Homo sapiens: one gene and its partners. The protein of the gene in region 1 purifies or fractionates together with the protein of each later gene. This does not show direct contact. Each region holds a gene or a part of one and is shown on either strand. Other genes may lie near its edges. The genes, in order: SLC45A2, GTF2E1, CLPTM1, ZFTRAF1, ACACB and PCNX3.

Evidence for each region.
Region 2: the proteins of SLC45A2 (region 1) and GTF2E1 purify together in Homo sapiens (affinity purification with mass spectrometry, with the first as the bait; one large-scale study listed by BioGRID). This does not show direct contact.
Region 3: the proteins of SLC45A2 (region 1) and CLPTM1 purify together in Homo sapiens (affinity purification with mass spectrometry; one large-scale study listed by BioGRID and IntAct). This does not show direct contact.
Region 4: the proteins of SLC45A2 (region 1) and ZFTRAF1 purify together in Homo sapiens (affinity purification with mass spectrometry, with the first as the bait; one large-scale study listed by BioGRID). This does not show direct contact.
Region 5: the proteins of SLC45A2 (region 1) and ACACB purify together in Homo sapiens (affinity purification with mass spectrometry; one large-scale study listed by BioGRID and IntAct). This does not show direct contact.
Region 6: the proteins of SLC45A2 (region 1) and PCNX3 purify together in Homo sapiens (affinity purification with mass spectrometry, with the first as the bait; one large-scale study listed by BioGRID). This does not show direct contact.

What each region holds. Positions count from the first base shown.
Region 1 is NC_000005.10:33,981,173-33,986,496, forward strand, and holds the start of SLC45A2 (membrane-associated transporter protein), read right to left. Parts: upstream 3,522-5,324; 5' UTR 3,412-3,521; coding exon 3,027-3,411; intron 1,241-3,026; coding exon 1,064-1,240; intron 1-1,063. UniProt on the Homo sapiens protein: Proton-associated glucose and sucrose transporter. May be able to transport also fructose. Expressed at a late melanosome maturation stage where functions as proton/glucose exporter which increase lumenal pH by decreasing glycolysis.
Region 2 is NC_000003.12:120,769,712-120,774,542, reverse strand, and holds part of GTF2E1 (general transcription factor IIE subunit 1), read right to left. Parts: intron 3,816-4,831; coding exon 3,614-3,815; intron 1-3,613.
Region 3 is NC_000019.10:44,985,850-44,990,680, reverse strand, and holds part of CLPTM1 (putative lipid scramblase CLPTM1), read right to left. Parts: intron 4,227-4,831; coding exon 4,106-4,226; intron 3,503-4,105; coding exon 3,258-3,502; intron 2,602-3,257; coding exon 2,508-2,601; intron 287-2,507; coding exon 96-286; intron 1-95. UniProt on the Homo sapiens protein: Involved in GABAergic but not glutamatergic transmission. Binds and traps GABAA receptors in the endoplasmic reticulum (ER).
Region 4 is NC_000008.11:144,448,360-144,453,480, forward strand, and holds the end of ZFTRAF1 (zinc finger TRAF-type-containing protein 1), read right to left. Parts: intron 5,102-5,121; coding exon 4,863-5,101; intron 4,212-4,862; coding exon 4,000-4,211; coding exon of another isoform or gene 3,821-3,999; exon of another isoform or gene 2,766-3,820; intron 2,412-2,765; coding exon 2,020-2,411; 3' UTR 1,223-2,019; downstream 1-1,222. Other genes in the region: TMEM276-ZFTRAF1 (uncharacterized protein LOC157542 isoform 1 precursor), read right to left, coding at 2,020-2,411, 4,000-4,211, 4,863-5,101.
Region 5 is NC_000012.12:109,262,462-109,267,292, reverse strand, and holds part of ACACB (acetyl-CoA carboxylase 2), read right to left. Parts: coding exon 4,824-4,831; intron 3,062-4,823; coding exon 2,907-3,061; intron 2,184-2,906; coding exon 2,013-2,183; intron 1,905-2,012; coding exon 1,768-1,904; intron 1,058-1,767; coding exon 931-1,057; 3' UTR 1-930. UniProt on the Homo sapiens protein: Mitochondrial enzyme that catalyzes the carboxylation of acetyl-CoA to malonyl-CoA and plays a central role in fatty acid metabolism.
Region 6 is NC_000011.10:65,628,934-65,633,764, reverse strand, and holds part of PCNX3 (pecanex-like protein 3), read right to left. Parts: coding exon 4,817-4,831; intron 4,409-4,816; coding exon 4,350-4,408; intron 4,246-4,349; coding exon 4,030-4,245; intron 3,415-4,029; coding exon 3,161-3,414; intron 1-3,160.

The DNA of each region.
Region 1 (5,324 bases):
GGCTGCACTCCTGCCCCTCTGCCTTCCTTACACAGAGGAGGATCTACCAACTGTGCTCCAACGGCCTCACTCCTTCATGTTTTCAACTATTCAAATGTTTGCTCAAATGACAAATATTGGCTCCAGTGGCTTCCATGGGCAGGCAGCAGTCTTAGCTCTAGAGACAGAAACTATGAGCAAAACTTGAAATCTTGCTTTTCATGGACCTACCTGGCCATGGAAGGAGAGAGAATACATCAAAACATAAATAAAGGCATTGGCTGGGCTACAAAGACAATCAAATAAGGTGGGCTGATAGAGTCCCCCTCTTAGATATAAAAATCCTCTTGGGCCAGGATCCTCCTGTCGCCTTATATTTCAATGCCTAGTTCTAGCATAGTCCTAACTGGTGCTCTGAGTAGCATTGCTCTAAACAATTGACCAACAGTAACCAAAGTAGGCTGGCAACAGTCCCAAGAGATCAAGAGAGCTCCCATTTTCCTCCTGGCATGAACTTTTTCAAACCACAAGGTTGAGGAAATGCCAACCTTTTACATAACTAAGAAATTTCTAAGACGTTGAGTTTTTTGTTTGCTTGGTTTGTTTTCTCTTTTTGTTTTTTAAACCTGCCACAAAATCATCTGGGGTCTTTATTAAATAAAATACAAATGTCTGGGCCCCGCCTTAGACTCACTGAATCAGAATAACTGGAGAAGGAGCCCAGGCAACTGTATTTTCAATGACCTTCTAAGGAATGTGGATGCTACATTGCTGATGCTTGAGATCCTCTGCTCTAATGCAAAAGTACAATCCACAAGGCTTCTTTCCATTTCAGTTGTAATTGTCTCCACAAAGCATTCTTAAGAAAGCTCTTCTGTAAACTTCCTTTGCAGAAACTGCAGCACTAGTCACAAGCTGACTGTTCAGAGAAATGCACGGGGAGACAGTGCCCGCATGACGGGAGCAGCCCATCAGCTGACCCGTTCATTCAAAAAACTCCACGTGTAGAGACACTGGATGGCTTTAGTGGAAGTGCCTCATTGTCTGGGGAGCTGAAGGAGAGACTTTCTGGAATATTCCCTACCTGTGAAGAGGGCATGGTAGTGGAGGCCCTTCTCCTTGTCCTGATGGGAGCAGACATCAAATAAGTAGGCTTTGATGGGCCCATCAATGAAGTCGGCAGCAAAATCAAAGAGAACGACACCTATCATGGTGACACTTATGGCCCAAACCAGCTTCCTCCTTGGGTTAGCAATCAAAGCTAAAAGAAAAATAAACATTGGTCTCCTAAATCCTGTTTTAGAATCATCCGCGTTTTGTAATTTCCACCTAAACTTCTTGCCATAAAATCATCTTCCTTGCTTTTATTTTGCTTTTTTCCAAATAAAAATAGCTTTACATTTTTTTTCAGGTTTTAAAAATTATGCAAGCGAATGTCCAGAAAACACAAATCTATGGAGACACAAAGTAAATTAGTGGTTGCTTAGGGCTGGTGCATAGGGGAAAAGTGGACGTGACTATTGATGGTAATGGGTTTATTTTGGGGGTGATGAAAATGTTGTAGAATTAGAGAGTGGTAATGGTTGCACAACATACTAAAGGCACTGAATTGTACACTTTTAATTAGTGAAATTTCTGGTATGTAAAATATCTCCTTAAATAAAAAAGTATGCATGCTTATCGCAAGCAATTCCAATTCTATTAAAAAAGCTGAGGGAGATGCTTCCAATCCCAGCCCCAGCAAAGGTCAGGCTTTAAGGCCTCCTTTTACGCACTTCTGCACATACAGACACACGTGTACAATGGTAGTCAAACGCAGTGCTTCTCAAAGTCTGGCATATTGAACTATCGCTTGTATGTCTTGTTAAAACACAGATTGCTGGCCCCATTTCCCAAGACTCTGATTCAATTGGTGGGCCTGAAGGGGGCCCGAGAAACTGCATCTCTAACGGTCTCTGCTGATGCTGAGGGGCAGGTCAGAGGCCACATCTTTGAACAGCACTGATGCAGTAACCAACTTTCTTCATATAATTTCAGCTCCTCACAATTTTTAACAGCTGGATTTTCATTCTACGGATACGCTGTAATCGTTTACCCAATCTCCTATAAAAGATACATTGTTGTTTCTCTTGTTTCCATTTGCTTTTTAAACTTAAGAATAGCATAGATTATATACACGTTTTAAAAATTGCAGTATAAAATTAAATGAACAATAAGTCTACCCGCCACTTCTCACCTCCTGTCCTTCAGTAATCCTCCTTAGAGTCAACAATGCTTATCAGCTTTTTGTTCATTCTCCTGGAAATATCCTACATTTGTACATTTACGCTTTCTTTCAAATATGTACAAATGATAATTGATTATCCTGCCTCATAATCACCGATTCTGCTAGCTTGAGAGTTAATGATCTACAAATGTGTGCTATTTTTAGCGATCCTTTTTGCAATGCAACTTTATTGTACTACCATCAATTACTGATTAATTGGTAGCTGATTAATGGCTAGAAAAAATGCCTACCCTCAGGTTTGCTTTTGTCCAGAATTTGCAATGCCAGAAAGGTCCTCTTGAGCTGATGGGCTTATGCCCTACGCCTATTAAAACGCTCTACATAAAACTATGAACAGAATTAACTTATTTGGATACACAGGTGACTTATTGTAAATATTTATGGAGCTATTTGGCAGCCAGTCAATTTGATAAGAGTATTAAATAGAGCATAATGGGCTCAAAAAGTAACTCAATTGATAAATATGTAAAAATATTCAATTCGATAAAATAGATACAAATTTAATAAAATAGATACAAATTTAATCCTATTTTTAAATCTTCACAACAATGAAACATATTTATTTTGATATTTCTAGAAGTAGAGGCTCCCCAACCACAGAATCTGGGCCAAATTTGTCAAAGGGGAAGTTCATTGTAACCTAGGAGAGATCAATTCTAACAAATTTCTAGGAAAGGTCAAACACATGAACATCCTCCTCCTGCAGAGGTACACACTAAGACACATATCCCTGTCTGCCCACCTTGTGCAGCCCACTTACCTGCTACAACAGTAGCCCCATTGAGGTACAGAGCCATGCCCACGAGCATCATGACTCCCAGGGTGAGGATGTAGGGTCTCCGGCGGCCCCACCTGGACCGGCAGTGGTCGCTGGCCGATCCGACCACGGGCTGCAGCAGGAATCCCAGGATGGGGCTGAGGAACCACACAATGCTGTACAGGCTGCTGGGCAGACCTACGCTGAGCAGGACTGGGGTCACATACGCTGCCTCCACCGCGTAGCAGAACTCTCTTCCGAACATGGCCATGCTGTGCATGATGAGTCTGCTGGTGGGTCTTTTAGGCGGCTCCACAGAGTCAAAGGGGCCATCATCAGCTAGGGATTTATAGATGTGGCGGCCAGCCTGCCCACTGTTGCTACCCATGGCCACTGGGAGAGGAACCTTCCTGCGAGCCCACCACCTCCTGCGTGGTCCTAGGGTCTGTGTTTCAAACTGGATTTGACGTGGAGCCTGGCCGAGCAACCAACAGAGATGGTCAGGCTGGGGGAGGGGCTCAAATTCTTTCCTGCCTCTAAGATCACAAGTTATGATGAGAGGGAGGGGGTGGTGCTGGAAAGCATGACAGAGATTAGCAGCTGTGAATCAGCCCTCTGGCTCCATAAGACGTTGGAATACTTTTCTAAAGGGATCCTCCTTTGTACTGTTCCCTCTCTCTTTCTCTCTCTCTCACACACACACACAATTACACGTGATCACACACATGGCTTCTCTCCCTCTCACACACACGTTATTACACGTGATCACACACATGGGCTCTCTCAGACAGTATTACACATGATCACACACATGGTTTCTCTCTCACACACACATGCTATTACACATGATCACACACGTGGCTTCTCTCACACACACATTATTACACATGATCACACACATGGCTTCTCTCACACACACGCTATTAAACGTGATCACACCTGGCTTCTCACACACACATGCTATTACACATGATCACACACGGCTTCTCACACACATGCTATTACACATGATCACACACATGGCTTCTCTCACACACATTACACATGATCACACATGGTTTCTCACATACATGCTATTACACATGATCACACACGGCTTCTCTCATGCATGTTATTACACATGATCATACACATGGCTTCTCACACACATGCTATTACACATGATCACACATGGCTTCTCTCACACACATTACACATGGTCACACATGGCTTCTCTCACATGCGTTATTACACATGATCATACATGGCTTCTCTCTCACATGCTATTACACATGATCACACATGGCTTCTCATGCATTTTATTACACATGACCACACACATGGCTTCTCTCACACACGTTATTACACATGGTCACACATGGCTTCTCTCACGTTATTACACATGATCATACATGGCTTCTCTCACACATTATTACACATGACAGCTTCTCTCTCACACACTATTGCACATGATCACACATGGCTTCTCTCACACACACATGCTATTGCACATGATCACACATGGTTTCTCTCTCACACACGTTATTACACAACGATCACACACGGCTTCTCTCTCATACACATTATTACACATGACCACACACATGGCTTTTCTCTCACACACACTATTACACATGATCACACATGGGGCTTTTCTCGTTATTACACATGATCGGACTCATGGCTTCTCTCACACACACATGCTATTACACATGATTGCACACATAGCTTCTCTCTCACACACGTGTTATTACACATCACACACGGCTTCTCACACACGTTATTTTACACGATCACACACATGGCTTCTCTCACACACGTTATTTTACATGATCACACACATGGCTTCTCTCTCACAGACGTTATTACACATAATTACATATGGCTTCTCTCTCTCATACACACATGCTATTACACATGATCACACACATGGCCGTGAGGTAATAAAGCCTTATTACATAGAGTTTGTCAAAATGTAAATAAATTGATATCTTTTCATAAACTTTTTATAAATATAGACATTCTATTTTTTACTACAAGTTTTCCACACACACAGCTCAGGAGTGAAATAACTAGATTTAAAATGGTGGCAGGTCACACCCTTCTTCAAATCATTAGCTGTGTCAGATCGCCCTGATATTTCTCCTCGTGGTACTTAACACATTTTACAATGAGATAATTCTGGGTTTATTCCATATCCTGTGTTTGTCTTTGATTTCCTCAAGAGCGGAGAACAGGTCTGTTTTGTTCATTATGGTATCCCCAGCAAGTATCATGATACCTGGCACCTAGTAGATCCTCAATAAACATTTGCTAAAGGAA
Region 2 (4,831 bases), on another chromosome or scaffold:
TTTCTTGTTCATCTCAATTTAACCATTAACTGTCCCTAGTCATTCTCTATCTTCTATCTGTTCTGTGTGGTCTTTTAAAGGCTATGTGGCTGCCTTCACTGTAATATGATGCTGCTTACTTTGTATAGGTTGGCTTTTCGAACTTTTCTCTTCTTCAGCATTCACTTTACTTTCTCTTTTCTCTTGGTCTGATCTGGTTTTTTATGTTTCTGTGCTTATTCTACATTCTGGCCTCTCCTCTCACACCCATTTGTCTCTCTGACTCCTTTCAATGCCTCTTCTATCCTCAGCCAACATCCCCATCTTGATGTGCTGAGCCTGCTCTATATATCTGCCACCCCAAAATGTTTCTCCCTGAGTTAGCTAAACCCACCTGGGAGAGACAGAATAGGCATATTTCTCTGATCTGGCCAACCACATCCTTATCTTTCCTTGATTCAGACTTAAATGACTCACTCACTCTGAGGTTACTGCTTCTCTTTATATATAATCCTGAACACAGAGTTTTTCTCTATTCTCTATCTTTAGCATTGACTACAAAGACTGTCTTATGAAGGTATGAGGAGTACTTTGAGAAAAACAAGAAAGCTAGAGAGAAAAGAACAGAATTAAAATAAATGTTAACACAAGAGTACTTTTAAAAAGTCTTTTGTTTTTAGTATTCTGTCATAGAAATTCAAGATGGGTTTTATTCTAGTTTGAGGCAGCAGACATTTGACCATAAGTCAAACAAATTTTAAAATTTGGAACAATTTTAATTGAAGATGACAAAAATGACAATTCATGTTTGAATCTTTTTATATTATTTAATAAATTTTAGAACTTTTAAAAGATACAACTCTTACTCAGAGATGAGAGGGGAATATTATTTCAAAACTAAATTTTTAAAAATCTTTAAGGTAAGTGTTAAGAGATGATGAAAAAGGGAAGGTTACTAGCAAGGAATTCCACTCTAGAAAGATAGGAAGATTTTTATATCTCATCAATAGGTTGACTTGCTGAAAGGATAGAATTGTCCATCAATTCTTGGGTTAGGCCTACTGACAGTTCTGCAGAGGTAGCCCCTAGTTTCTGATCTAGGGACAAGCTAGAATTTAACTGATTACAGATCAGTAATCAAACTAATAATATTGCCACTTATTTAAAAAAAGAAAAGCTATCATCTCTGAGTTCCCATACCATTCTATTGATGCCTCTTCTCTTGTACTGAGGCAGGATGGACTATTACATCCTTGGGGCAGGATGGGCCATTTCAAAACTTCATACTCCTATAGTACAGAAAGGCCAAATCAATACCACCTCCAGGATGTTATATCCAAGCAGTGGAATTTGTCAAATGCTTTGGTGGGGACATTATAACCTGGGTAACATCTTCTAACCTAATGGTTTTTTTCCTGACCACGTGGAAATGATTTTACTTTGGTCTGGCTGGCAGCTCTAGGAACCCCATTCTGTCTTTCTTGTCTGCCTCCATTTCCTCCCTTTTTTCTTAATGACCAGATTTTTGGGTATCCTTTTTTCCTGATCAGTTTATTTCCTCTATTTCCTGGTTCTTCTTCATCCCTGGAGTCACCATCATTCCTGATAAGAAGAAGATGACTTGATACAGAGAGCTGCTGTTGGGCCTCTGGTGTCACTGTACCACTAAGACTCATCCAAGGCCTGCAGTGAGTGGGGGATATGGAAATAAAGATCCTGGAAGGGGAGCTGGATTGTGGTAGGTGGAGAACATTAGAGACAGGAAGCCAGTGGTGGTGGTGACTGAATGCTATTGTAGTGGGGAAGCATCTTGATAAACAGGACAAATAACTACAGGTAGGAGAGGAAACATCAGAATAATTCAGATAGTATATTGTGTAGGAAGCAATCAGATACTACACTGACGCATACTTCAACATGAAATAATCCATAAGCTTAGAAAATTTTGTATTTTTGTAAAATCAATTTCCCTCATAAGCTTGTATGTTAGAGCTACAATATAACTTAAAAGGACTGAAAAAGATACAAAAAGAAAAATTCCTTTTTCAAAAGAGGAATTCCTTTTCTTACACAAAAAGAAATAAATAACCAGTACCAAAAGTTAAGGCTATCTGTGATACAGATGTTATTAGTTTCCTATCAACTGTGGCTCCTTTCTTTCTTTGCTTATTGGTTTTATTAAAATACCAATGGCAATTTGCTCCAAAGAACTCTGGGACCTTCCCCAGTCCTAGAAGGTAAACCTTAACTAGTCTAAGTACCAGTCATGTGATCTCATTTCCTTTGCCAGCTGCTGGTTTAGAAATATGCATATAAAACAATTGCAGCCAGTGAGACATCAGGGGATAAATAGAGTATCCTAGGGAGCCCTCTGGGAAACCTTTCTTCAGTTTTAAAATAGGACACAAGGAAGGGACGGTCCCTTTTTCTGCATTTGGACATTGTCATCTGCACGTGATACCTAGAAATACATGGCCATATTAGACTAGCTCCCCTCATGGTCCCAAGAGGATAATCAACAGGCTGAGTTCAGCAGAGTATAAAGATGGAACAAATCTAGATCCCTGAAGATATAATTGAGCTGTGAAATTAACCAGTTTTGAACTGTACTACTTCAAGACTTCTAGTCATGCAAGACAAATTTTCTTATTGTTCAATCTACTGCTAGACTGGATTCTAATTCCAACTAGAGCTGGATATTCTGTTATCACAGGCAAAGGCATCCTAACTGACACACGGTACTGGATTAGAAAATTCATAACTCTTACAGATACAAAATTTTCTGTAGAATTGGATTGCTTTGAACCATCTAAAAGGAGCCCAATTTACTCAGGACTGGCTATTCTGTAACATCAGTACCACAGGAAATAAAATACTAAGAATGCTCCTAAAAACTATACAAATACAGCCTGATTGTTGAGCTCTTTGGAAGGGAGTGGGTGAAGTGAAGGTTAAATAAAGATATCCCTTACTTGATGCTGGGAAGAGGGAGAGAAAAAAAAGGGTAGAGTAGGAGAGCACTCCCTGACCCCAATTTTCATTTATGCTTTTCAAGAAAGAATATAAACCACCTTTTCTGGCATGGCAAAACTAAGGTTACCTCTGAAATTCAAACATTAGGGAACACTGATAAAAATAGGGAGCCACTGTTAGGAGTATTAACCCATAGGTAACACCAGCTATACTTTACTTTCAAGGAAGTTGCAATTACAACTAAGAAATAAAGGTGATTAAAATGCTTCAAAAACAAAAAAGAAAATGCTGAATTCCTTAAAGGCCTTCAGCCTTCAGAAGCTGGCTAGGAAAATTCAAATATCCCCAAGCGGCACAACTAATTTAGGATTAGCTAACAATTGGCTGAGTTGCTGCAGTCCCAAGCAGAATGAGTACTTGAAGTCAAACCTAAATATTTAAAGATTTTTGCCTGAAGTCCACAGTGTTCTGCATTTAGAACAAACGAATTTCATCACAGGCACACGTTAATCAGACAAATGTGGCACAACTGAGAACCTACGTAACATTACAGTCTTGAGTCTCCTAGTAAATTACCCACTCTTGTTCTCCAAGGTACAGGTAGTTAAAACAAGAACAGGTTGAAATGTGTTCTTAGTAAGAGCACAGGGCCTACACTCACCTCTGTTTCAGGGCTGGGATTTCTGTGGGTTCTGGCTCAAGTATTTCATAGGCCAAGTTCACATCCTCTGTCTCCCGAAGCAATGCATAAATGGGCTCAATTTGTTCATTAAACCTTGCCAAAAGTGTGCGTGCATCTTTTTTGGGCATTGCTGATTCATCCTCTTCTACCTCTGTATGGCAAAAAGTACAGCGGAAAGTTCCTACAGAGAAAACAAGTATCTCAGGTCAGAGAGAAGACTTTAGCAGATAGTTTATACCTCCACCCTCCCCCAATATCTTATTATTAAAACTTTCAAATATACACAAAGGTTGAAAGAATTTCACAGTGAACAGCCATGTGACCACCATTTAGATTCTACAATTAGCATTTTGCTATTCATCACATATCTATCCATCTATCATTTTTGATGTATTCAAAGTAATTTCATCCCTAACTTCAGCATAGTTTTTAATCACAATATTTCTAATATGTATTTATTTTAACTTAAAGCCAAATTCTTTACAGCTTACCACCACAACTTGTACCCTTTCCTGGCAGCTTTAGTCTTTTTTGTTTTCACATTACACATTTGGGCCTACGTTATGGGGAAAGCCAAATAAATACCTAAAACCAAGAGTTTCTAGTCATCCTGAACATTGTCACAGGCTATTTTTTAAAATTTATTAACCATTTGTATCTAATCAATTCAATCTATTATGCTAAAACTCACACTCTTAAACATTACTTAACAGTCTACACCACTAGCCACACCTGGATTTCCAGTTTGGTTCTTATTCCCAAAGACAGGAATATGCATCCTTCCTTTCTGACTCAACTTACTTGAAAGATTAAAAGGGAACATGTAAGTACTTAGTGTCTGGCAAATAGTTAAGTACTCAAACATTTAGCTATAAAAGGCCCCATGTATGATTGATACATAAAGAACAAACAACCAAGTGATCTCTACTTCAACATAACACTAGATCCTACTGATACATTACCAGTATAATAATTTTCTTTACTGCCCCTCACACATAGCCAATAGCATGTAAATTATTTGTTCAAATACCCTAAAATACATCTTCTTATTGTCTAAATGCCACCTAATCTACATCTATCCCAAATAAGTGAGAAAGAGAGAGAAATGCAGCCCTTCACAGCTAGGAGGTGGCTCAGCACTCACAGCTAGACTGTGGCATTTTTCTGTCAAACAAGATCTCACAGATCACTAACATC
Region 3 (4,831 bases), on another chromosome or scaffold:
GAATCCCCCGGGGGCCAGCTCCAGGGTCCAGCTGGGCCACACTACCCCCTCCCAACCCCTGCAGCTCCCGAGACAGCATGGCGCCCCAGCCTTACCCGGACGTCCATGACCTTGGTGATCTTCCAGAGGTCGATGAGGACCCCAATGAAGACGCTGACCTGGACCACGAAGTTGGTCTCGTTGTCCAGGATGTAGAGGAGGACCACGAATGACTGGAAAACGCCGAAGAAGACGGAGCGCACGGACAGGCCCTCCAGGGACTGCCGGCTGTTCCAGAACTGGATATCTGTGCGCAGGGGGTAGGGGGGAACCAGGAGGCTGAGGAGGTGCTGAGACCCTACTGCAGCTCCCTCAGGCCCCCTTGGCCTGCATCCTCACACCCTGGGGTGGGGCTGGGTCCTCAGGAGGGGTGCTGAACGAGACCCCTCTCTCCCAGGAAGGCTCTCATATTCATTGGGTGACCCCCAGAGCACCAGACAGGCGGCACCCCTGGAGCCCTCCCATAGGACGTCAGCACCCAGCACCCCAAGGTGCAGTCCCTTGACTGATGGTGACGGTGACTGGTGCCATGGACAGGGCTCACCACGTGCCAGGTGCTAAGGACTGGTCAGGGAAGCTGCTTCCCTGAGGCCAAACAGCCTGGCATGGCAGAATCTGAAGGGACGCGGGGTCTGTGCCACACCATGGTGCCAGCTCGCCCTCCCTGGGAAGGAAGATCTGTGGCATGCACTTCAAGACCACCTCCTCCAGGCCCCTGCCCTGACACCGGGAAGGAACTGGCTCACAGCCATGCTCAGGAAACTGAAAAGGGCCCTGGGCTCCAGTCTGGAGCTCCTTCCAGTGCTCCGCCTAGATGCTGCCAAGGATCCATGTCAGCATGCTCCTCTCTGAGCCCTGGTCTCACCACGGACACCCCTCTCTTGACCCCGCCCGGCTGAGCATCTAACCGCAGCCACAGGAGGCTGAGCCACCACGTCTGTAGCACAGTGGTGGAGCCAGGTCTGCAGTCCTGCAGAGTCAGGGCCAGCTCTGCACTCAGGGAGTGAGGGCTGTGAATTCTGGTCCATGTGCACCCTACCCCATCCCAGAGCTCCCCCACATCCCAGAGCTCCCCCACATCCCAGAGCTCTGGCACACTCCATAGCCTCACCCCACCCACCCCTGCCCATCAGAATGACCCCTGTCCCAACTGAGAAGAATGGGTCTGGAGACAGGGTTCTGGTGGGTTCTCGTGGGAGCAGTTGGGCCCAAGCCTCTCCTTAGACCAGGGAGGCCACACAGCACTGGTGCCAAGTGAGGCCTGCGCCCCCTGCTGCATGACACTGGGGAGGACAGCCTTCTTGTGCCTCATTTCTCACTGGACCCCAGCCAAGCCAGCTCCTAGGCAGAAGGGTCCCGTCTCCCAGCGACAGCTGGTAGATGGCTGGCTGGGGTCGGCACCAGCTCCTGTGCCCGTATGACACTGCATTCTTCCAGATGGTAGTTCTCAATAATGGCAAGAGCGTCCTTTTTTTTGGAACAGGGTGTCACTCTGTTGCCTAGGATGGAGTTCAGTGGTGTGATCATGGCTCACGGCAGCCTTGACCTTTCAGGCCCAAGCCTCCCGAGTAGCTGAGACCATAGGCACACGCTGCCATGCCCAGCTAATTCTTAAAAAAAATTGTGTAGAAACGAATCTCGCTTTGTTGCCCAGGCTGGTCTCAAACTCCGGGGCTTAGGTGATCCTCCCACCTTGGCCTCCCAAAGTGCTGGGATTACAGGCGAGAGCCACCACCAGGCCGGCAATAGCATCTTAATACCAGGAATACTACTACTCATTCCTCTTGCCGCCTGCGGGAGCTACAGGGCCGCAGGCCACTCCTTCAGACTGGGGTGCTCTGGGCAAGGAAGAAGTGGCCTGCAGGGCCTAGAAGATGAGAGTTGGGGCTGGAACCATCTGCCCCTTAGGAACCGTGTGACTGGGCAAGTGACATCCCTGAGCCTCTGGCTCCCACAGGGCTCAAGGAGCTACTGGGGAGGGTACCCAGGACAGTGCCTGGCATGTGGCTGCTTCTCCTCAAACGCTGGCCATCAGTATGGTCAGCCTTAGAACCTAGGGACCTTTGGGGGACAGTGCTCCTCCTTCCCACTTGGGCAGGCCCCGTCCACTCAGCCCTAAGCGGCCTCCCGCAGCAGGCAGCCTGCCGGGCAGGGTGGCGGGAGCAGCTCCGGGGCTTCCCTGCTCTTGGCTCTGGAGTTCCCCAGCCCTGCTTCCTGGCAGTATTGGCCTGGCCTCTGCCCCACCAGCGGGCCAGCCCCTCCCTCAGCTCCACACCCGGTGGGTGGGAATTTCTGGGTTGGGAGTTTTGGGGCCACTGCCCCTCCCCAGCTCACTAGGCCTCTGGAGAGTGGGGCTGAGAGACCCCAGGCAGGGGGAGGACATGTGGGGAGGGAGGGGAGGAGGAAGGGGGCAGGTCCTGTCCCCCACCCTGCACAGCCTCTCACTAGCCCTGGGGTCCTGTTCCTACCATTCTTGAAGGCCAGGAACTCGAAGACACTGTGAACGATAGACACGATGATGGTGAGCGCCAGCAGGTAGGGGTTGGTCTCCAGCAGGGCCACCTGCAGGGGACACATGTGAGCACAGCCTGTCCCCACCCAGGAGCACCTTCACTAGCTTTTGTCCCGAGGGCTGCCCCTGGGGCCGCCTGTAGAGGGAGGCTGAAGGTGGGCCAGCCAGGAGGAGACTGGGTCAGAGATGGGCAGATGGGGAGAGAGAGGAGGGTGACTCACAAAGACAGAAGAGACGGGGAGATGGCACTAGGGGAAGAGGCAGAGGCCAAGGGAGTGCTGCGGGGAGTGGGTGAAGGGACACTGGGAGCCAGGAGCAGAGACCCAACAGTGACGACAGCCCAGGAGGCAAAGCCGAGCCTCACGCCACAGACACAGGCTGACATTTCAGGACCCAGTGAGATGGCAGAGACACAGAGTTGGAGCCAGGGCCAGGGACACAAGGTCTGGGACAGAAGGAGGAAGGGACAGGTCTGGACCCAAAGGGTCCAACAGAACAGCCTGGGGAGAGGACCCCCAGTCATCTAGGGCTGGAGGGCTGGGTGCCCACTTCCTTTCACTGTGGAGAAGGGACCTGGGAGGTTGTGAAACTGTGGGCAGAGGAGCACCAGGCGGGAGGTCCCACAGCCCAGGCCTGGCACACTTCCTCTTGGCCTCTTGCGCCCAGGAAGGCACCGGGAAGTCCCGCCCACACCGGCCGCACTCACCTTCACCGAGTCCTGCTCCTCATCTGACTGCTCGTACAACTCATCACCCAGGAAGTTCCAGGGCGACTTGGTGCTCTGGGCAGCATAGAGCTGCCAGCGCCAAAGCGAGAGTGGGCAGAAGGAGACGCGGAGCGGCAGGCTGGCCAGGCTCTCGTTGATGGGGTAGTAGTCCTTCTGCAGGTTCCAGTAGTCATTGAAGTAGATGATGGGATAGTAGTCACCGCTCACGGCGTCGAACTTCACATCTGCAGCACGTGGGGCAGGGGCACCATTTGGCCCGGGCAGGAGGCCAGGGTACCCGCAGGCCTCAGATGTCTGGAGAGACCCAACAGGGCCCCTCTACAGAGACTGGAGGACAGGGGACATTTCTAGGCCACACCATGAGGAGCTAAAGGGTGCCTTGACCTCAGCAGAGGGGACTGAGGCAAAGGGCAGGCAGGTCCCCACTGAAGGGGGCAGCTGTGGCTCAGCTCCAGCCCACGGCTGCCCTGTGGGTGACCATGTAACCCAGTTTTATAAAATAAGCCAGAAATTGTGGCTTTTAAGTGATACTGCCTCAATTTCAAAAGCTGGCAAGTGATAAGACATTTTTTGAAAACAGTTTGTGGGCTGGATGGCACTTGATTGCGGACCGATGCTGGCGTGTAGAAGTCAGTCCTGGGGTCCCCAGGGGTGGTGGTGTGGGAGAGGGAGAGGACATGGGAAGGGGATAGGACAGGGTGGGAGCTTGGGAGGGTGGAGCCCTGGAAAGCTCTCTCAGGGGGACAGGGCCAGGAGAAGACAAGGAGATGGACCCCGAGCACCCTCTCAAAGGCTCTGCAGGCAGCTGGCAGGGCTGGGGAGCTTACATTGATCCAGGGGAGGGGGCACACTGCCCTTCACCCACGGCGTGTGGTCGTCCACGATGTTGATGGTGATGTTGGGGTGCCAATGGGAGATCACCTCCACAGGCCCATAGTCCTCAGCCCTCTGAGGCAACATGGGGGGAAGGACCTCAGAGGCAGGTGGAAGTGCTCGGGGACTATCACTCTCTGTACACTTCCTCCCCAGGGTTCCCGAGAAAATCTTAATCTTTGCTTTCTTTTTTTTCTGAGATGGGGTCTCACTATGCTGCCCAAGCTGGTCTCGAATTCTGGGCTCAAGCACGATCCTCCCACCTCGGCCTCCCAAAGTGCTGGGATTAGAGGCGTGAGCCACCATGGACAGCTTCTTTTCTTTCTTTCTTTTTTCTCTTTTTTGGAAGAGATGGGGTCTCACTATGCTGCCTGGGCTGATCTTGAACTTCCGGGCTCAAGTGATCCTTCTGCTTCGGCCTCCCAAAATGCTGGGAAAACAGGCATGAGCCATCTCCCCTGACAACCCTGGCAGCAGAATATCAGCCACCACAGCAACTGCTGGCAGAAGGCTCTCCTCCCTAGGCTTAGAGATTCCGCCACCCAGGACCCTTCCGGCCACCGACAGGATCCTCCCACCCCACATGTAGAAAACCGAGGTAGAGGTAGAGGCAGGGCTGGCATCCTAGGCCAGGCTGCGAAGCCCAGCCTCATGACAGCAGGCTCCACACACTCTTGCAC
Region 4 (5,121 bases), on another chromosome or scaffold:
CCCAGCCTGGCTGTCCCCATGAAGAACAAGCCTCCCACCTTCCCCACCCCAGAGACATGCTGGGGCCTGTCCCTCCGTTGAGTCAGTCTCTCACACACACAACCAAACAGGTGACAGGGCAAGCCCGCCCCACCCGTGCGCCCCACACCATCACCTTGGACCCAGAAACACTACGCTAGAGGGCGTCGGGCTTCCAAAGAGATGTAGAGCCATAGCCCAACCCTCTGCGCCTGTGGGTGGAGCATGAGGGAGGACAGCCCCAAAGCGCAGCCCTGAGGTGCCCAAGTTCACCCTGGTGGTGCCAGAGTCAGAGGCAGCTGCTCCCAAGGATGTGCTGGGGGCTGGGTGGGGTCTTTCTTTGTGGTCAGCAGAAAACCAAACATGGGGCCTTCCCATGCCCTTGGTGGCCAGGCCACATCAGCTCTGCAGGAGATAAGGCTCCGGCAGCGAGGCACTCCCAGCAGGCCACACGCCCTGGCCTGGGAGTAGAAACCCACAGCATTCTCAGAAACAGCTCCAGAAAGTTTCAGCCCGTGAGGGGCAGTGCGGCGGCCCGGGAGGGAAGAGCTGACTGGGAGGGTCATGCTGGGCTGTGCCATGGTCAGCCGCCCGGATGATGGCGCTTACATTCTGCCCCCAGTTCCTCTCCATTTCTCAGCCCTCGACCCGTGACCAGCAAAGCACAGGACAATGTGGGCCAGGCCCCAGCAGCCAGTGGGGGCGGGTTGGGCTGCTGTGAGGCAAGTTAATGCACCTGACTGGAGCAGAGGAAACCAGTTCTTTGGTATTGAAGCAACAAAAAGCTATCACGGAAGAGCCACATCTCCTAAGCAAAGGTGGGGGCGTCAAGCTGTATCCTTCCCAGTAGCCCTGGGAGTCCCAGGGGAAGAAAGGACCAGGGATTACCCCTCCAGGCAGGGTTCCTTCCCATCCTGTTAGGCCAGCCCTGCTCAGCCACCACGGGGCACATCAGGGGGCGGCCAGGGTGAGGATGGGAAGGGCCCACCTCCTCCAGGTGAGAAGCTGGGCTGCCCAACCTCTGACCTCTGCAGCGAGCCCTGAATGCAGGGCCAGCAGCAGGACCCCGAGAGCAGCATGGGGGACACACCTCAGACTCTCACCCAGCCAGGCGCCCAAGCACTGACCCAAGCTTTCCACACAGCCTGGGGACGCTGGGCCCTCAAGGCTGAATCTACAGTAAATAGACTCTTTCTCACTAAAATTGTGTAACTTATCCAAGAGCCTGCAAGGAGTTTAATCTTTTTCCTGGGAAGAGACAATTTCACCCTGCTTTCGGAAAATGCCTGCTGAGCCCTGGTGGCTGAGTCCTGTCTCCCTGGGAGCGGCCGGTTGGCCAGGGCAGCCCCGACCCTACCTGGATCTTCCTGCCCAAGCCTCAGTCTCAAGACCCCATGACAGAGTGTAGGGGGAGGCAGTGTCTCTGAGTCTTTCCTCGGGGGACGTGTGCGGGCACACAGATGGGGGCGGGGCAGGCTCTGACCCCCAGGCCAAACCAAAGCCCCCACGCTGTCCATTCACAGCCATGCCTTCCCCTCGAACAAAACAGAAAGTACGAAACAAGGCTGCCTTTTAATTGCTATCAGATATTCGGATATCCCGTCTGATGTCAGCAAGGCCCCCGCGCCCCGCCGGAACCCGCAGGGATGGAGCAGCACCGCCGCCTGACTGCACAGAAGGGCTGGGGCAGGGTCGCTGTGCCTCTCGGCCTCCTTGCTGCCACCGTCTCTGAGCCTCGGGGCGCCTGGTGCACCGTCTCCTCTTCGGGTCAGCCCAGCCTCTGGCGGCCCTCGGAAGGAGGGGAGGCAGGGGTCGGGGGGGTGAGCCGGAGGCGGGGGCCCCGTCGCGCACGCATGCAGACTTGCCCTGTGTTGGCTTCGTTTGTTCTCCTCCTTTGCTAAAGTGATCAGATAGTCCTGTGAAGCAGCTGCCAGCCAGGTGGACAGGGCAGCGGTGCTGGGATGCCGCCCGTGGGCTCCTCGGACATCCTGAGGCCCCGCCCTACTTCTGTATCTGGAACAGGAAGAGCCGCAGGTTGATGTTCTTGGCAGCCAGCAGCTTGTTGCACTCCACGGAGTCAATGATGGGCAGTGGCACGTAGTCCGTCTCGTTGCTCTCGTTGGTGAAGACAAAGTGGTAGATGACGGGGCTGATCCTCACGTCGTCGTAGGGGCCCTTGAGCAGCAGGAAGGAGCACTCCAGCGGTGCCGTGACCTTGCTCTTGAGGAGGAGCTGGAAGGAGAGCGTACGCTTGCAGGACAGGTTGGGGTTACGCTCCGAGTCGTTGACTCGAGCCTTCAGGACCCACGTCTGGTTCAGCACTGTGAACCTGGGCGTCTCATAGTACAGGCGCGTGATGAAGTCGTCTGTGCGGTACGGCCGGAACTGGACCTCTGTGGAGACAGACAGGGCCGGAAAGAGCCGGCTGTTAGTGTGGGCAGGGCTGGGCAGCAACGCCTTCCCTGACCAGGCCGAGGGCAGGCTCAGCCGGGGAGGAAGGCAACTTACCCGGACACCGGGCTCTGCTTGTCACAAGCAAGCCAAACGCAACTATGGCAAATGGAGGTGCACACAAGCTTTGAGGGGAACAACCACAAACAGAATCAACATGGATTAGCTGGAGAGTCCAGAGGCTGCACGTGTCAGGCCACACCCCAGGCGTGCCCGACCCACGCTGGCCTCCCTCACCGCCCCGAGCCCCGGGTGTCCCCCAGGGCGGGGTAAGCAGACACACAGACAGGATGCGGTTCCGAGAACAAGTGCACTTTATTGGTTCTGATACAGAGGAGCTGCCAGAAAAGCCAGCAGGCGGCTGCGGCACCCAGCCCTGCCCGAGGGGAGCACCAGGTCTGCAGGCACCGGGCCTGATCCGGAGCTGCCAATCAGCAGGCAGCCCTGCCTGCACAGTCCTCTTGGGCAGCCCACAGCCTGTGGCCGGCAAGTCCCTCCGTGGAGGCGTGGGTTCCCAGGTGGCCAGTCTTTCCTGCGCGAATGGGGCTTCTCACCTGGCCACGGCCACAGCCACAGTGCCCCAGCCTGCCTAGACTCCACGAGGCCCCGGTATCTCCAGGACAGCTAAGGCTGCTACTCACCACGGGCTGTGGCTGCCGCAGAGACCCCAGGCCCTCGGCCTCTCTGGCCTGCTCGGGCCCACATCCCGCTGGGCACAGTCCAGGCAGCAGGGCGGGACTGGCTGCCCACGACCACCCTGCTTGCGCCACGCCTGGTGCTCTGAGCTGGCCGCCTGGTGTGGGCTGAGAGTAGAGGGATGGAGCTTCCTCCAGTGGCCCCAGCATCAACAGGTGCTTCTCGCTGTCCTCTGGGCCAGGCTCTGGCCTGGCTCCTGCTCCCCGACACGTTCAAAGGCGGTGGCAGCGGCCCAGAGAGCCACGAGATCCAGTGTGCCTGCGCACGCATCCAGCCTGGGCGTCTGTGGGTGTCCACTCCCGGTTCTACAGTTTGAGTCGGGCACCCTCAGCTTGTTGTGGAGCCCTCTCCCTGAATGGCTTCGTGCCAGCCTTGAGAGGCCCATGGCCGGGGCAGTGACTGCCTGCAGGTAGGACCTCACTCGGCAGGGTGCTCTTCTTGCCCCAGGGTCCGAGGGGCAGGCCCCTAGCTCCCAGGCCCCCTGAGACCTGCCCACTTTCTGGTTAGACCCTGACTGTCTTGAGGCTCTGGAGCCCCACAGTGAGATGCCACCTTGCAGGGATGGTGAAGCCAGGGTGGCGAGGACAGGTGGGCGGGGCTGCTGTGAGAGCCACACAGGTGTGCACCTGGGGTCTGCCTCGGCCCCTCCTTCCACTCAGTCTCCGGCCTGTCTTCTCGACCGAGGTGTCCACCTGTCCACCGGGAGCTTGTCCAGAGCCCGGCTGTCCGGCGCTGTCAGTGCCCAGTGCCCAGAGCCTGCTGCCCCCAGACTCCTGGCTGCCAGCCCCCCAACCCACACCTGTGTGGCATGCAGCAGGCGGCGGGGCGCCTCACCTGTGTAGCCAATCTTCTCGAAGCTGAGCAGGCTGAAGATGCTGTTGTACAGCTGCATCTCCTTGCGGTGGCTCTGGTCCATCCCATCCAGGATCTCCATCAGCTCACTGCCTGTCTTGGTCGGGTGGGCGCACGCAGCCTCGTGCACCGTCAGCTCATGGAAGGGGCCGTGCCATGGGCAGCCGATGCGTTTGTACTTGCACTGGGTTACCCTGGGGGAGGCAGGTACATCACTCACAGACTGAGCCCCGAACAGGAGGCTGCAACAAGCTGTCCTCCCATATGGCTTCCATCCAGCTAAGAACCCCTTCCTGCAGGACACACGTAACTGTGAGCCCACCCCCCAGGATGAGGTCAGAGTGGCAGCATGTGGAGAGAAAGGAGACAGGCAGAAAAAGGGAGAGAGAGGGGAAGGAAGAGTGCAAGCTTGAGCCTGTGTGCCCCGCACCATGGCGTGGTTCTCTCCTCTGTTTGGCAGTGGTGGTCCTGCACAGCCTCACTGCAGGAGACTTGGTGGCTGCCTCCACTGGATGGGTAGCCATGGGCAGTGTACCCTCACACCAAGCTCCCTGAGGTCCTGCGTTGGACACGCTGTCCTGGGCCCTTCAAGGGGCTCCCCCACAGCCACAAAGAGCACTGGAAGGCTAGGCTCATGTCCGGATAACAACTGGGTGCAAAACCCACCTGTCCCCATCCTGTGCAGGCACCCTCCCACAGGGCCGTCACTGGGCTACACAGGTGGTCCCCAAGGCCCAGACAGCAGAGACAGCCAGACCACCCTGCACAGGGCCCTGCTGCACCAGGGTGGGCTCCCAGCAGTCCTGGGCCCCGCCTGTAAGGCTAAGCCCCTGACCCTCAGTTACCTGTCCTGGCATTCCTCTTTCTGGTGCCTCTCCAGGAGGGAGCGGGGAAACTGGCGCAGGCAGAAGCCACACTCTGAAGGCAGCTCGCTCACGGCTTTCTCCACGGCCAGGTTCCGGCAGCAGAGGCTCTTACTGATCTCACAACGACAATTGGGGCACGTGGCCTGCTCCTCCTTCAGCCGGGCATCTGCTAGTAGGTGGATAAAACAGCCAGCGCACATCAAGTGACCATTAGTACACTGCGAAGAAGGAAAGGGAG
Region 5 (4,831 bases), on another chromosome or scaffold:
ATCCCTGGCAACCAGTGCTAAACATGGCCTATCAGTGGGACCCTCCTAGTGATTCACTAGCGCCATTTGGGGAACAAAATAGCATTTCACTCTCTCAATAAAAAAATCATCTGGCTGAAGATGGTGGCTCATGCCTGTAATCCCAGCACTTTGGGAGGCCAAGGTGGGTGGATTACCTGAAGTCAAGAGTTTGAGACCAGCCTGACCAACCTGGTGAAACTCTGTCTCTACCAAAAATACAAAAATTAGCCGGGCATGGTGGTGGGCACCTGTAATCCCAGTTATCTAGGAGGCTGAGACAGGAGATGGAGGTTGCAGTGAGATCATGCCACTGCACTCCAGCCTGCATGACACAGTGAGACTTTGTCTCAAAAAAAAAAAAAAAAATTCATCCATACATTTTTCTGGGTGACTAGACAGTATCCAAAGAAACATCATTACAAAAATAGGTTTTCTCTAGTCCTGTCTATATATATATATTTTTTTCCCTTGGCCCATTTATTTGGCTGAAATATATGAGATGCTTACTTACATCTGGTGCTGGTCTCAGAGTAAAAAAATAAAAGATTTCACGATGTGGTATCCAAGGATCCTAAAGAACGCCTGGATCCCACATGCCAGGCACTGTTTTGCAAAAGGAAACAGGGATGTTTTAGCTTGATTAGATTTAGTGATGCAATAAAACTGCTGTCTTCAGAGACAAAACAAAATAAACTTCCCAGCTATGGAGAGGAGGCTGTTTTTGTTTGGAAGAGGCACTCCTGGGCCTTTTGTTAAGACGGGTGTCAGCTCGGAACCAGCAGCCCTGCAGAAGTGCCCAGGATTTTCTTTGTTTAAAAGCAAGTCTTCAGGGTCTGCTGAGGGTGTACGGGTGGTGGGTCTGGGTGGTTCCTTTTGCCGTGGTCCCGGGAGTGGCTGGGCGGGCCACGGTCAGGTGGAGGCCGGGCTGTCCATGGTAGACAGCAGGTGAACGACCTGCGCCCGCTCAGCTGGGCTGATGTGCTGGCTCAGGTATATCACACAGTCCACGGCCACCTCGGGGTTTTCTTCAACCAGGCTGTGGGGGAGGTGAGAGGAGGGCTGGGATCACTCCAGCCACTTTTTCAGTGGCCCCAAGGGTGGCAGAGTCCTTGTGTGGGGCCACACCCCAGAACCCAGAGCTCCCGAGTCCCTGCTGTGGTCCCCATGGGGGTGATGGTCCTGTGCAGCAGGAGGGGCTGTGACCTGAAGTTCAGAATGCCTTGAGGCACCACCGTCCCTACTGGTCACTGCTTTGTGACATGACCTGAGACAAGACACTGCCTTGAGTCTCAGCTTCATCCCCAAAATGGGGTCCCCTGTGCTCGACTCCCTCCTTCACGGGGTGACCCCATGGCAATTGGGGGAGGGGACCCTCTGGAAAGGTCAACACTGGCGTGGAAGACAGCAGCCTGAAGGCTAGCGGTTCCAAATGTGGGTTCTGTGACCAACCCTGCTCCAGCTGTGACTTTGGACAAGTCCATATTCCAGCAAGGTTCATGAGTTGGAAGCATCTCACACGGCCTTCAGAGTACCTCTAGGCTCTCTGTCCCACCCCAGCCACTGTGCTGGGAGACCCGACATTAGGGAGTGTGGTCTCTTTGCTGGGGAGCGGGGAGGGGGCGGGGACAACCCCAGACTGCACAGGGTGGCGGGTTCAAGTGGCTGCATAGGAGTCGGGTAGCTAGGGGTCAATCCAGGCTCGGGTCCTTGCCAGGAGGCTGGGAAGCAGGTGCGGTGGCCACTCACCCTCGGATGGTCTTGAGGACAGAGTCGTGCTTCAGGTACGTGATGTTCTCACGGATGGTGGAGCGCGGGCCATCCCCTGCCTGCCAGTGCTGTTCCAGCCACTGCACAACCACCTGGTTGTTGTCCCACAAGTAGGCCTGGGGAGGGGGCAGAGGATGCCTCAGAGAGGGACCCAGCTGTGGGCCAGCTGTCTCAGCCCCCAGCACCCCCTGTGCTCACCGGCCTCGTTCTCACCCCAGGCCCACCTTGACAGCCCCCTCCGTCTCCACGAACCAGCGACGCAGCATGGACTGGATATGCACGTGACTCAGCTCCCCGCTGGCCTGCAGGATCTCCTGCTTGACCTGGTCCTCCAGGAGGAGGCGGCGCAGACGCCAATACAGGAAGGTGCGTGCGGTCTTCCACTCCAGGATGTCCTGTGGACGAGCCAGGCTTGAATCCCCGGAAAGGGAAGGAGGAGACGGGACACTGGCTCTGACCACACCCATGACAGTGGCTGCCCGGGGCTGGGCCCAGGCTCTGAGATCATTCCCAGATCATCCCAGGCAAGTAAGCTGAGGCTCAGGGAGGAGAAGGCACCTGCTCAGAGGCAGGACGTCACCAGGACTCCAGACTGGCCATAGTTGAAAAAATGTCCCCCATAAAAACCTGGCACCCACTTCTACCTCAACCGACACAAACACAGGCTCGTGTGAGGCATGAGTCAGCTGGGAGGGAGAACAATGCAGCAAGAGAACCAATGAGCACTGGACATGGGTAGGAGGTGACTGTGGGAGTCCTTGCAATGGTGAGGGGTGGGTGAATGCTGGACAGGAACAACGGTTTCTACCCCTGGTCCAGGTCCAAACTGACCGAGCCATCAGACTAGTGGTCCCTGAACTTTGCTGCTTATTAGAATCTCTTGGGGATCTTTAAAAAATACGACCGCCTGGCTTCCATCCAGGTGTTTGGATTTCACTGGTCTGCAGTGCCACCTGGGGATCGGGATTATTTTAAAGTTCCCAGGTGACTCCCACCTCCTGCAGCATTTGACCCATCCCAACCACCACCGCCCTCCCCGCCCCCGAGCCCAAATGTCCTCCATGTTTTGGAAAACAGGGTGGGCTCTTTGCACCCTACACGGCAGCTGTGGCTCTCACAGATATGACGCCCTTCTCCAGCATCCGGCCGGGTGTGTCATGGAAGTCGGCGAACTGCACCGCCACCTGGTGGTAGATGGGGAGCAGCAGGTCCTCGCGAGCCTTTAGCCGGCCCTCCAGGTCCTTTCGGTCCTTGTCGGAGAGATCAGGTTCCCCTGCAGGTGAGCAGAAAGGCCAGTCAAGCCATGGAAGCTGGTCATATGTGATGGGGTGGAGATTTTTTTTTTTTTTTGAAGAAGGCACAAATCAGGATTTGCAGGACAGGCCTTGCCTTGTGAGAGGTCTGAGCTTTAACTCTGATATTACCCCTGCTGCTACACAGGCTGCCCTCAGCCCCCTAGGTCCCCCAGAGTCCACTGGCCTGGCCCCCACCCCAGGCCCATCTTGATGGCCCCCTTTGTCTCAGATCAAATAGCTAGTACAGTCTCAGAAATGCACTCACAATTGCAAGACAGCATTCAACATGCAACTCTACATTTTCCCCTTCCATCAGACCCATCGTGCTTGTAGGATACTATATCAATGATTTTTAGTACACATTGTAAAATATGATAAGGGAATATTATAAGCAACTCTATGCCAAATTGACAACTTAAGATGAAATAGACAAATTCCTTGAAACACACAAACCACCAAAGCTCACCTAGGAGGAAACAGATAACACAAATAGTCCTATATATAACAAAGAAGTTGAATTTATAGGTAAAAACCTCTATCAAAAACATAAAGAAATAATGCCAATTCTGCAAAAACTCAGAAAATAGGAGCGAACACTTCAACTCATTCTATGAGATCAGCATTACCCTGATACCAGCCAAAGAAATTACACGCACACACTGTAAAAAATCTTGTGAATAGCACAGTTATAAAGACACTGACACTTAAAATGGATATTTAAATATCATCTTGTGGCCAGACTTAGTGGCTCACGCCTGTAATCCCAGCACTTTGGGAGGCTGACGCAGGCAAATCACTTGAGGCCAGGAGTTCAAGACCAGCCTGGCCAACATGGTGAAACCCTGTCTCTACTAAAAACACAAAAATTAGCCAGGTGTGGTGGCACACACCTGTAATTCCTGCTACTTGAGAGGCTGAGGCATGAGAATCGCTTGAACCTGGGAGGCAGAGGTTGCAGTGAGCTGAGATTGCGCCACTGCACCCCAGCCTGGGCAACAGAGCAAGACTCTGTCTCAAAAATAAACAAATAAATAAATAAAGATAATTACATCTAAAGATGACAAGTAAAACAAAGCTGTCATTCAAACAAAATTAGTAAAATATCTTATCTCTGATTGGGAATTCTAAAGGAACATTTTGCCACCAAAATTCTGATAATCCCCATCAGCCCCAAATACTTCAATTGCTATCTTTTGTGTATGCTGAGAAATAAATTCACGATGGCAATATATATATATATATATATATATATATATATAATGTTAAAAAGGTTGATTTAGAAATGTGAATGTCCTCCAATCATGGTAGCTCATGCCTGTAACCCCAGCATTTTGGGAGGCTGAGGTAGGTGGATTGCTTGAGCCCAGGAGTTTGAGAACAGCCTGGGCAACATGGCGAAACCCCACATCTACAAAAATACAAAAATTAGCTAGGCATGGTGTTGCGTACTTGTAGTCCCAGCTACTCAGGCTGAGATGGGAGGATGGCTTATGCCTGGGAGGCAGAGGTTGCAGTGAGCTGAGATTGCACCCTGCACTCCAGCCTAGGCAATAGAGCCAGACCTCAAAAAAACAAAACAAAACAAACAGACAAATGTGAATATCTTTAAAAATCTCACAGTTATTATAGCTGTATTTTGGTATTTTTTCATTTTATTTTTAACATCCTAGAAACCCCCAGCAGTGGGCCAGCTGGGCCTCTCTTGACCTCTGAGAGGTGAAGCCTTTGGGACCCCCTTACCTAGCTGT
Region 6 (4,831 bases), on another chromosome or scaffold:
ATTTACCACCTCAGCTTCCAAGTCATCAAGGTGGAGCTGGCCCCACCTGCCCTGAACCCTGTCCCCCACCCGCCTCTGGCTGGCCCCGACACTATGGTGTGGCCCTCAGGTGAACCTTCAGTGCCTGTGCAGCACGTGGGCCAGGTAGCAGCAGGAGCTGGTGTTCCTGCACAAACATAACCCCGAGCGCGGGAGCATCCAGATGTCACATGGGCAGGGGGCGGGGAGCGAGTGGGGCAGAACAGACTGAACTGCCGCCTGAACCCCGGACCTTCCCCATCATGACATTGTGGGATCCAGATCTCGGGGCCGGAAGGGCAGGCTGAAGTAGTGGGCCTGCCTCAGAGTGCCTGGGTCACAGGTCCCTTTAGGCAGCTGAAGCATGACAGCCATCAGGCCTCGCCTCAGAAAAAAGCCACGGGCACATGTGGTACCCAAAGCTGGGGGCTCCTGGACCTCTTGTTAAAAGGCCCTGTTGGGCAAAAGTACAGGAGCTTTGGAAGACAGGTAGCTGGCATGGCCAGGATGCACGGGCGGGTTAAGGCCGGCAGGGCAGCCAGTGAGGTGATGGGGATTCCATGTGCCACCCTAAGATGGAGCTAATGGGGCAGGCCCTTTGCCAGGGCAGACCCGCTCCAGACTGACTTTCTTGCCCATAGCTCGCCTCTACAATCCAGGCACCACCAGAGCTGCTAAAAAGACCCAGAAAAGAAAAGCTTCAGCCAGACAGGGTGGCTCACACCTGTAATCCCAGAACTTCGGGAGGTGGAGGTGGGAGGATCGCTTGAACCCAGGAGTTCAAGACCAGCCTGGACAACATGGCGAAACCCCATCTCTACAAAAAATACAAAAATTAGCCAGGCATGGTGGTGCATGCCTGTAGTCCCAGCTACCTGGGAGGCTGAGGTAGGAGGATTACTTGAACCTGGGAGGTGGACACTGCAGTGAACCCAGATGGCACCACTGCACTCCAGCCTGGGTGACAGAATGAGACCTTGTTTCAAAAAAAAATAAAAAAAAGAAAAGCTTCAGGGACCGGGAGAGGAGCTGGCCTGGCACATATCAGGTGCTTGGTTAACCTTCACCAGTGCCATCCTTTTCTCTGACACAACACTCACGGTCATCTTAGGAAGAAAATGAAGACGGGGGGCAATACCAGCAGCCGCTCCGCCTGTGAGCGCTCACTGCGAGCTGGGCTCTGCCCAAGGTACTTCCCGGGAAGCACTGCCCAGACTCCGTGCAGCCTCAAGCCACGGTGCCTTTTCCTGCTCTTGTAGCCCTTCCCAGCTGCAGAAGCAGGTCTGAGAGCCCAGTAACTCCCACGGGAAGGGCAAAGCTAACGGGAGGGGCTCCGCCTCGACTGGCCAACCTCGAAGGCTGGAAAGGACCTATCCCTGCAGCTGGGACACTTCCCCAGATGCACCAGGCTCCCCAGCACACCCGCCTCCCCCCGCCCCACCCCTGGCAGCCCTGACTTGTCCTTCCAAGCTTCACCCTCAGTCCACATCCTCAGCGGAGCCACCCCAGGTCCTCCAAGCACTTCCTCCAGACTCAAATTCTGCCCAGCCTTTGAGGCAGCCTTAGATGTGGCCAGTCAGCTTCCCCATGGGACAAGAGACCTGGCCAGGTGCATCTCAACCTGCTGGCCCTAGCCTAGCAGGCACAGCAGGGCAACCTGGGCAAGGGCACCTCTCTCAAGATGGGACCGGAAGGTGGACCAGGCCATGACCTCTCGGTGACCTGGGACTGGGAATGTCCCTCTCTAGACACAGCCTCCTTCTTGATGAAAGGGGGGTGGTCTCACAAATCCTTGCCTAGGAGTGGCTGGGAGGGCAGAAGGAATGACAAATGACAGCTCCTCTGATATGTGGTGTGGACAGGATTTCCTTTGGAGAAGGACAGCCAGGGCCTCGTGAAACTACTCCAGAGAGAACCTAGGTGGCAGGCTCACCTGGGCCCCAGTAGGCCACCCACCGAGCCCAACATAGGGAGCACCAGGGTAGATCCTAAGAAGGCACGTGGGAGCCTGCACTGTGATCAGCAGGCCACCCCACTCCCAGTACGCTTATTCTGAGCACCACAAGCCTCAAAATTCCTTTTTTTTTTTTGAGACAGTCTTGCTCTGTTGCCCAGGCTGGAGTGCAGTAGCACGATCTCGGCTGGCTGCAACCTCTGCCTCCCAGGTTCAAGTGATTCTCCTGTCTCAGCGTCCCAAGTAGCTGGGACTACAGGTGCCCGCCATCACACCCGGCTAATTATTTTGTATTTTTAGTAGAGATGGGGTTTCGCCACATTGGCCAGGCTAGTCTCAAACTCTTGACCTCAAGTGATCCACCTGCCTTGGCCTCCCAAAGTGCTGGGATTACAGGCATGAGCCACCACGCTTGGCCAAGCCTCAACATTTCTGCCATCTCAGAGAACTGCAATAACCCCCACTTCTCAAGGGGTAAGCTGAGGGACACAGGGAAGAAACATTCCAGGCTGATCAGAACCCCCATTCCAGGGCTCCTTATGTACCCCACATTGCCTCACCAACCCCCTCCCACCCCCAAGAGGTCTCAAGATCCTCAGGCCTGGCTCAGAGCCCCCAGGCTAAGGCAGGAAAGCTCTGTGGCTCAGGGCCAGCCTGGGTTCAAGGCCTGGCTTGGCCATTTTCTTCAGATTCTGGAACCTCTGCAAGCCAACTTCCACATCTGTGAGATAGCAGGGCCCCTCTCAAAGGGTGGGGGACTCCACCCAGCTCAGGAGAGATGCCCAGCATAGCGCCCACCCGTGGTAAATGTTACTGCTCAAGCAGCTGCTCCCATGATGATCGTTAACGTGACAACTGTTAGCTCTACCACTGCTCTGTGCTGGGTGAGCTGGGGGCAGGGGCTGGTGGTTTCAAAGGCTGGCCTCTGCAACTGCCCACCTGCCCCATACTCACTGCCCAAAGCAAGCCTTCCTTGCCTGGGCACCTATCAGAGCCATATGGGCACAGAGGCCCCTGCAACCTGAGGTCTGGCAGTGGCACCTCAGGGGACACTTAAACTCTCTGAGGCCTCAGCTTCCCTTGGACAAAACAGGCTCCCAACAACCCAGAAAGGGGGTACTGGGGCCTCTGGTCAGCGAGCGCTCACCCGCAAGGGCCCTGCTGCCCGGCCACACCTGCCCACCGTACCTTGACATAGTAGGTGATGAGGATCTTGCGGAGGTCGAAAACCTGCAGCATGGAGGCAGCATTATTGTCACTAATGCTATAGCCCTCCAGCACGTACTTGCTGGCTGTTACCTCCCAAGCCAGCCAGCGCTGCCCAAAGGCAGCATTGAAGGACAGGACCCGTGGCAGGTGGCCAGGTTCACAGCAGCAACAGCCCTCGTCCTCCTCCACACCCTCGGTGATAGCCTCCACCTCGCGCTGCTGGCAGTAAGTGCCTGTGGAGGAGGGGTGTGCAGTCAGGGGCTGCTAGAACAATCCCTACCTGCCCTGTCCTGGGAGAGTGACCAACATGGCATCAGAGGCCTGCTGCCATTCACCCCCTTGGACGCCAGGGGAGTCAACCTTATTGGATGCCAAGATTCACGAAAGAGCGCCTGCCTTTCTCCTCCCAACTCCCAGCATCCAAGGGCAGGGCGGGAGGGAGCAGGGACACGGTCTGGCCCCTCTGCACTCTCGGGCATCCAACACACACGTCTTCCTGAGAGGAAGGAGCTGGCTCACTCATGGCGCCCAACCCATGGGCCAAGCCTGAGACCACAGAGCAGGCTGGGTGTGAGAACTCAGACCTCCAGGCCCAGGCCCTCACTGCAGTGACCTGTAGAGTCACTGGGACCTAAAGTTGGGGCAGGCACAGGGCTTGGCCAAGAGACCCTGCCACCTCATTGCTCAGACTGGGAAACGCAGGCCCAGGGAGGAGGAGTGCCTTGCCCAAGGCCACCCGCCAGCCTGGACAGAGCTGGACTGGACCTCCTTCGCACGTGCTATTGAACACAGCTCCCACATCAGGCCCGAGCTGTGCCTGCCCACCCGAGCCTGGTCCTGCGGCTCACCCCGGAACTCAAGGCCACGCAGCTGGAAGGTGACGAGGCCATTGCCAACCTCGATGAGGTGCACCAGGGCGTTGAGGTAGTCAGAGGCCAGGACGAAGCAGTCACCAGGGCCATAGTTGCCCCAGCGGCCCAGCACCAGGTCCCCACACAGTGTGTGCTGCAGCGAACGTGTCAAGTGCTCATAGAAGATGGAGTTGAGGTTGTTGTCATCAGCGCCTAAGACCCAGAACAGACGGGCAAATGGACAAAGTGACAAGTTAGCGAGGCTCCCTCCCCAGGGAGGCCCTGCCCTAAAGCCCCTTGGATGGCTGGGTACACACCAGGGTTCCTGTCCAGCTGTGTGACCAGGCGGGTGTTGGAATGATCCACACGTTTAGTGCTGTTCAGAGAGAGTGCAACAAGGCGGTTGGCCAAGAAGGTGAAGAGAGGGTGCACCCTGCTCATGCTCTCCCTGTGCCACAAGGTCAACGCCATCCAGGACAGCCCCGTTATGCAGGCAGATGAGGAGACTGAGGCTCAGGTACATGAAGGGACTCACACAGGACACACAGCCAAGAAGCTGGGAGGCTAAGCTCATCCCCAGACCCCACTATCCCCAAGCTGTGAGCCTGAAGCCTTGGCCTGGTGCAGGCTCTCCCTGCATTGGATCTGCCGCCTCATGTGTCCCCACTGTGACCAAGCCCTCCCATACCTGCTGTGGGCCCCTCTGTGGGTGGCCTCCAGCCTGGGCTCCAAACCTCTCCCTTCCTGCCCTGCTGGGCATGCTCCCGCCTCCTGTGAGACTCACTTGTAGTCGCGCTCC